Homo sapiens: one gene and its partner. The protein of the gene in region 1 purifies or fractionates together with the protein of each later gene. This does not show direct contact. Each region holds a gene or a part of one and is shown in the gene's direction. Other genes may lie near its edges.

The links.
Region 2: the proteins of ZNF365 (region 1) and KIAA1549 purify together in Homo sapiens (affinity purification with mass spectrometry; one large-scale study listed by BioGRID and IntAct). This does not show direct contact.

What each region holds. Positions count from the first base shown.
Region 1 is NC_000010.11:62,372,982-62,377,168, forward strand, and holds the start of ZNF365 (protein ZNF365), read left to right. Parts: upstream 1-1,387; 5' UTR 1,388-1,477; intron 1,478-1,889; exon of another isoform or gene 1,890-2,146; intron 2,147-3,199; 5' UTR 3,200-3,212; coding exon 3,213-3,955; intron 3,956-4,187. UniProt on the Homo sapiens protein: Involved in the regulation of neurogenesis. Negatively regulates neurite outgrowth. Involved in the morphogenesis of basket cells in the somatosensory cortex during embryogenesis.
Region 2 is NC_000007.14:138,915,390-138,918,889, reverse strand, and holds part of KIAA1549 (UPF0606 protein KIAA1549), read left to right. Parts: coding exon 1-2,142; intron 2,143-3,500. UniProt on the Homo sapiens protein: May play a role in photoreceptor function.

The sequences.
Region 1 (4,187 bases):
TGCTTTTTAAATGTGTGTAGGCCCCTTTTTTATGGAATTAATAATAATTATAAATGAAGTAGCAACAACGATAACAGCTGACTTTATCAGTGTGTGTCCCTGTCAGGCAGGGTTTTTACCTCCATCATCATAGCACATTCGATCCACCGCTATATTAAGAGGTAGGTCTTGATTATCTTCATTTCATAGATGAGGAATTGAAGGAACAGAAAAGTCTAGTTACTTGACCCAGGCCCTAGAACCAGGATTTGAATCAAGTCTGATGCCAGAGCTTGGGATCTTCATTGCATTTGATGTGATAATTCATTTGTGAAAAAACAAAGCAATTCATTTGTTTTCATTTGTCAAAAACAAAACAAAATTTCAACTAAGATAACTGTTGAGCTCTTTACCGTTAAAATAAAATCGGGTGTTGAAATGAGTAACAGCAAGCCTTGAGAAAAGACACCCTGAGAAGTCAAGAGGATGCATTAACTGTCTACAGATGAACAGAATCTCTTCTCTTCTTTGAACAAGAAAACCCAGCAGTAACTTTTATCTAGGTTTCACATTTCAGGAGTTACAGTAGGGGTAAACCAAAACAGGTTAAAAAAAAAAAAAAAAAAAAAAAAAAGCAAAAGCCCAGCAAGCTGAGACATCAGAGTCCTTCAGAAGGAATGATTTGCCGTCTTCTCTTCAGGACATCCCCTCTTTAGGAGGACAAATTTTTTCTCCAGGGAAAGGGGCGTCCGCCTCAGAAATGGGGGTGTAGGTGAGGGATCTTGTTGCTTTAACTGTTTGTTCATTAATCCCTGCACTTTACTAGATTTAGTTCTGCCTGTTAACGTAGCCTCAGGACACTTGGCTAGGAAGGCTGGAGTGTACTCTCTGGGTTAGTTATTTTGGGACATTCTCGCCCTGCTGCTTGGGATGAAGAGGTCCTAATTAAATACCCGGACCTTCCAACGGGTAGATTTTCAAAGAAGATGCCCAGCTATGCTGCATCCTCATCCACACTCTCCCGCTCCCCCCAAACTAGTGCAAAAAAGCTTGCCAGGGCCTGCAGAAAGCGCCGCGACTGCGAGGCTGACACGCGTCTTTCCTTCCCTCCCCCGGGGAATGATCCCAGCATCTCTCGCAGTGATGTCAGTGTAATCCTGAGTCGGATCGGGCTCCCGGCTGGGTGGCGGGGGGGCAGATGATGCTCCCGCCAGCTGGGCAGAGCAAGGGTGTTCCCCGCGGAGGTGGCAGCCCTGGGCCGCGGCGTTCCGGAACCCCCGCACCCACGGCGCGGTGCCCCACGGTGCCCGCGAGCGCCGCCCCCGCTGGCTAGCCGCGCCTCGCTCCGCCCTGGACGCCGCCGGTCCCGGCGCGGAGGTGCGGCGGGGAGTGGGAGCCGGCCCGGCTCAGTCTGATTTACGGCTCTGCTGAAAACCGCTTCGCTCCCGCAGCATCAGCACCGGAGGCGGCGGCTGCAGCAGCAGCAGCAACAAGTCGGGTAAGAGGCGGCCGCCGGCCATCTGCGCCCGCGGCTCGGCGGAGGGGACCTGCCGGGGTGGCCGGGGCTGGGGAGGGGGTCCCCGAGCCCGCAGCATGGCGGGGAGTTGGGAGAGCCGGCTTCCCGGCCCCCACCAGCAGGAACTCATGTGCACACGAATCCACTCTGGCACCCGTGGGCTGGCACGCAGCGGAGAGGGGGCGGGGAGAGCTGGGACCCCGGGGCAGGGTCATTGCCAGCCTGCCCTTCTCTGGCAGAGTCACTTAGGGCTCTTCATCAGCCCAGTGGACTGGGTTTCCTCTGGGCCCATAAAAGCCTGCGTGCTCTGGAGTGTGTGATTACCCATTTCCCCATCCAAAATGCCACCCTTTTCCCATTGCCCCCTTAGAATCCTGACTTCCCCTTTCCTTACCTCTTGTCAGCGTCTTTGGCCCTATGCTGAGCCAGGGTTTGCATCTCGTTCCCAGAAAACCAGTGGTTAAACATCCCGGTGTACCCATCACAGGAAGAGGTTCCCCTCTCTGGGGGCCGGGGGCTTCACCTAGAAGCCTTGCCTGCCTCGCTGCCTGGGGACCATTTGCACCTCTGCTTTTGAAGAGGTTGAGGACACTTTTCACCCAAAGACCCCAGCTGGGCTCCCTCATTTCGGGTCCAATGCTTGTTACATTTAAGTAGAAACCTTTCATGGAGGAATAGAAGATATGCACTGCTTGCAGAATTGGGTTGCCAACAGTCATCTGTTGCTAGGGTGAAGATAATGCATTCCTACAAGGAAACCAGAACTTCCTGTTATTAAGAGAGTATGCTGATACCTACCTGGTTCACACACTGACCATCCCTAGAGGTTGTCATATAAAATAGCATCTGAGACAAGACAAATCCGTCCAGAACACTCTATTATAATAAAAATCTTGGCCATGGCCCCACTTATGCCAAATGGTATTTGACACATTGGGTCCCCAGGTTTCAGTGAAACTCACGTATGGGGTCTGTTATTGTTACGATTAGCACTTTGGTTTATGTCATCACAGCAATACCTGAAGGAAAAAAAGGCAAAAATTTCAGGGTGAAAAATTTTCAGCTGATTGCAGGCTTAATGCCACTGTGCATAGCTTGAGTAATCTTTCCTGTACTTGAGGATAGGTCCTGAGCTTGCTGTCTTAGGACCCATTTTGACAATTCATGTGAGTTTTCATATGTTCTTGTGTTCACGCATCTCGGATTGTATCCTTAAAATGGGGCACGGTTTTGCATTTAGTGTGCCAAATTCAGGAGGGGAGGAAACTTGAATTCCACTTCTGGATCTACCACTTTCCATCTGACCTTGGATTAATGGCTTTACTTCCTTGCTTCAGTGTTCTCTTCTGTGGAGAGGGAATGTTACCCACCTTTTTGATTCTAGGTAGGAGTTGGCAAACTTTTTCTGTAAAGGTAGTAAATATTTTAGCTTTTAGGAGCATAGAGTCTCTGTCTCAGTTACTCACCACTGCCATTGTGGTTTACAATAAATAATACAGAAATTGATACGGCAGCAGTAAATAATGCAGAAATTGATGTGGATGGATTTGGCCCATGGGCTGTAGGTTTTAAGTGCAACATAAAATATTATGTGCAAAAGTCACTTGAAACCAAAAAGCCTCTGCTGTCATGGAGATGAGCAGCAATCATTTTAGTAGTGTGTTTTTCAGCCGACTTGTAAACTACCTATTTCCCCCCTCCCAGGACTTTTAGAGTAATGCAACAGAAGGCTTTTGAGGAAAGCAGATATCCCTGGCAGGAGTCCTTTGAGAATGTTGCTGTGTGCCTGCCATTACGCTGCCCGAGGTGTGGAGACCATACCAGATTTAGAAGCTTGTCATCCTTGAGGGCCCATCTGGAGTTCAGTCACAGCTACGAAGAAAGAACCCTCTTGACAAAATGCAGTCTCTTTCCATCCCTCAAAGACACAGACCTAGTCACTTCCTCAGAACTCCTGAAACCGGGAAAATTGCAGAGCAGTGGCAACGTGGTAAAGCAGAAACCGAGCTATGTTAACTTGTACAGCATTTCACATGAACATTCCAAGGACAGGAAGCCATTTGAGGTGGTGGCAGAGAGGCCTGTGTCCTATGTGCAGACCTACACTGCCATGGACCTCCATGCAGACTCGCTGGATGGGACACGGTCGGGTCCTGGACTGCCCACCTCAGACACCAAAGCTTCTTTCGAGGCACATGTCAGAGAAAAATTCAATCGAATGGTTGAGGCTGTGGATAGGACCATTGAGAAGAGAATTGATAAACTCACCAAAGAGTTGGCCCAGAAAACTGCGGAACTGTTGGAAGTTCGGGCAGCTTTTGTGCAGCTGACTCAGAAAAAGCAGGAAGTTCAGAGACGAGAGCGGGCCTTAAACAGACAGGTGGACGTGGCCGTGGAAATGATAGCTGTACTGAGGCAACGCCTGACGGAATCTGAGGAGGAGCTTCTTAGGAAAGAAGAGTAAGTGTTGCTGACAGGGGATGCTAACCCCATTGCTTTAAGCAGCACCCCAATCGCCTTACAAGCAAATGCTAAGCAAGGTTGATTTTTGCTATTTGCAGGTGCCTTGACTGCATTTCTTATTGATATAGTTGAACCAGGAGGAACAAGGCTTTGATATCATTTACCCTCTGTGTGCACGGTCTGCAACCTAGCAGCATTAAAGTCAAATATCTAATTCCTTCTCAACTGG
Region 2 (3,500 bases), on another chromosome or scaffold:
CTGGCAGGAATTTGGTGCTTTATCCTACTGATGCTTACAGTCATTTATCAAGCAGGACTCTGCCAGAGATTGTGGCTTCCCTAACAGAGGGTGTGGAAACCACCCTTTTTTTAAGCTCCCGGTCTTTAATGCCACAGCCGTTAGGCGACGGCATTACTATACCGTTGCCCTCCTTGGGGGAGGTCTCACAGCCTCCAGAGGAGGTTTGGGCCACAAGTGCAGACAGATACACTGATGTGACCACTGTGTTGAGTCAAAGCCTAGAAGAAACCATCTCTCCAAGAACATACCCCACTGTGACTGCATCGCACGCAGCCCTTGCATTCAGCAGGACACATTCTCCATTGCTTTCAACTCCTCTTGCATTTGCGTCCTCTGCTTCACCAACTGATGTTTCATCTAACCCCTTTCTCCCTAGCGACTCCAGCAAAACATCCGAATTGCATAGCAATTCAGCCCTCCCCGGTCCTGTGGACAACACTCATATCCTGAGCCCGGTGTCCTCATTCAGACCATACACTTGGTGTGCGGCCTGCACTGTGCCTTCACCTCAGCAAGTTCTGGCCACGAGCCTCATGGAGAAAGACGTGGGATCAGGGGATGGTGCCGAGACTCTGTGCATGACCGTGCTGGAAGAAAGCAGCATCTCTCTAATGAGTAGCGTCGTAGCAGACTTCTCTGAATTTGAGGAAGATCCTCAAGTATTTAATACGCTTTTCCCCTCCAGACCTATCGTCCCACTTTCTTCTAGATCCATGGAAATCTCAGAGACGAGTGTTGGCATTTCTGCCGAGGTGGATATGAGTAGTGTTACAACCACACAGGTTCCCCCTGCCCACGGCCGCCTCTCTGTGCCGGCGTCACTTGATCCTACTGCTGGCTCCTTGTCTGTTGCTGAAACCCAAGTGACGCCATCCAGCGTGACCACTGCATTTTTCTCGGTCATCACCAGCATTCTCCTTGACTCATCTTTCTCTGTCATAGCAAACAAAAACACACCGTCGCTTGCCGTCAGAGACCCGAGTGTTTTTACGCCTTATAGTCTGGTTCCTTCAGTGGAGTCTTCACTTTTCTCTGACCAAGAACGTTCCAGTTTTTCTGAGCATAAACCCAGAGGTGCTTTGGATTTTGCATCCAGCTTTTTCTCAACACCCCCGCTGGAACTCAGCGGCTCCATCTCTTCGCCTTCGGAAGCACCTGCGTCTCTGTCTCTGATGCCGAGTGACTTGTCCCCCTTCACATCTCAGTCTTTTTCTCCCTTGGTTGAGACATTTACATTGTTTGACTCTAGTGATCTGCAGTCATCTCAGCTGTCTCTTCCCAGTTCCACAAATCTTGAGTTTTCGCAGCTCCAGCCAAGTTCCGAGCTGCCTTTAAACACCATCATGTTGCTACCTAGCCGTTCTGAGGTGTCACCATGGTCAAGCTTCCCTTCTGATTCTCTCGAGTTTGTTGAAGCGTCTACGGTTTCACTGACGGATTCAGAAGCTCATTTTACCTCAGCTTTCATTGAAACTACCTCCTATCTTGAGTCTTCACTCATTTCCCATGAATCCGCAGTCACTGCACTGGTGCCCCCCGGCTCTGAGTCTTTTGACATTTTGACTGCCGGGATTCAAGCAACATCACCATTGACCACTGTCCACACAACGCCCATTTTAACTGAGTCTTCTTTGTTCTCAACTCTGACACCTCCTGACGACCAAATCAGTGCTCTAGACGGTCACGTGTCTGTCCTGGCCTCTTTCTCCAAAGCCATTCCCACTGGTACGGTGTTGATCACTGACGCGTACCTGCCATCAGGATCCTCGTTTGTTTCTGAAGCAACCCCCTTCCCTCTGCCCACAGAGCTGACCGTCGTGGGCCCATCACTCACACCCACAGAGGTGCCACTGAACACCTCCACGGAAGTGAGCACAACCAGCACCGGTGCTGCCACTGGTGGTCCCCTCGACTCCACCCTGATGGGTGACGCCGCAAGTCAGAGCCCCCCAGAGAGTAGTGCTGCTCCTCCCCTGCCATCCCTGCGTCCCGTGACTGCCTTCACTCTCGAAGCAACAGTCGACACACCAACACTGGCTACTGCCAAGCCGCCATATGTTTGTGATATCACAGTCCCCGATGCCTATCTGATCACAACTGGTAAGGCCCAGCTTCCTGCCGCCTCTCTGGGGTGGGCAATCTTTCTAAGGAGCTTGTGTGCAGTGCCTGTGAGGCTTGGAGCTTCATGGTTAAGAGCAGAGGCGCTGGGCTCAGTTAACTCCCAGGTAGTACTCCTATGCTTACCTCCTGCGAGTTCTCAGAACAGTTATTTATCCTCTCTAATCGTCTGCTGCCTCACCCATTAAACAAGGAGCTTAGTTAAACCTGCTTCATTGGGCTGTTGTTCAGATGTAAATGCGTTAGTCCCTGCAGAACGCTCAGCCCTTGCCTAGTACATCAGAGGCATGCACGGGATGGTGCATATTAGTCAGCAGTCACAAGGAGAATAAATATTAGAACAAATACAAGAACTAAACAAGCCTTGGAAGTTCTTGGTAGGATCTTTGTCCTACCATAACCCAGTAGGTGCATGGATGACATAGTTTAAACAAAATACTTTTTTGTTTAATTCAAGCAATGAGTTGGGCAACTATGTAAGGGCAACCCTTGCAATTTCTTACTCATTTACTCTTCTTACTTTTCCTTGAAAGGAGACTGCACTTTGCTCTCATAGGTCCCTGTAAATGCCCCTTGGGTCCCGAGGAAAGAAAAGTAAAGTGACTCTTTGCTCTTATAGGTCCCTGTAAATGCTCCTTGGGTCCCGAGGAAAGAAAAGTAGTGACTAAATATCCTCTGAATCCAGTATCAGCCTTTGGTCTCCTCCCCACCACAGCCTGGGTTGCTAGCAGACTGGCCAGCAGCTTCCCTTGCAGTTGCATGGCTGCTGTGGCCGCGTGAAGCTGGTGCCCACCTGAGGGCATGCCTGAGAGGTAGACTGATTTCAAGGGTCATGTCCCGCGACGGTGGCCCGCTTGGTCAGGGTCTCTGCATTTTTCCTCATGAGACATGACAGGTGTATGTGGTCTCGAGGGTCATGACTGTGTGCTGAACCACAGCCTGGTGGTGACGAGCAGCCTGTCCTCTGTTTTGATTTTGGTAGGAGTGGAGGACAGAAATGAAAAAGGGGACGAAAACGGCAGAAGAGGTAGGGAGGAGTGGGGTGGAGTGGACCGGGAAGGAGAGGAGCAGAGAATGTGGAAGGGGGAGAAGGAGGAGAACACGCTGGGTCTTTTCCTCTCTGTGGTCGGGGTTGCTGGGAGCCTCTGCTCACTGTGACAGTGCCACATCCCTCTGGGCAGGTGGGAGCGAGGATCCTGATGGCAGGTACACGTCAGTGATCAACACCCTACCTGTGGGAATGGCTTTGGAGAATGAGTCCAGGACAGCCTTTGCTCCCCACACGCCAAAGGGAAACATTCGTTATTCCACATGGCAAGTAATGATTGAGCACCTAGTAT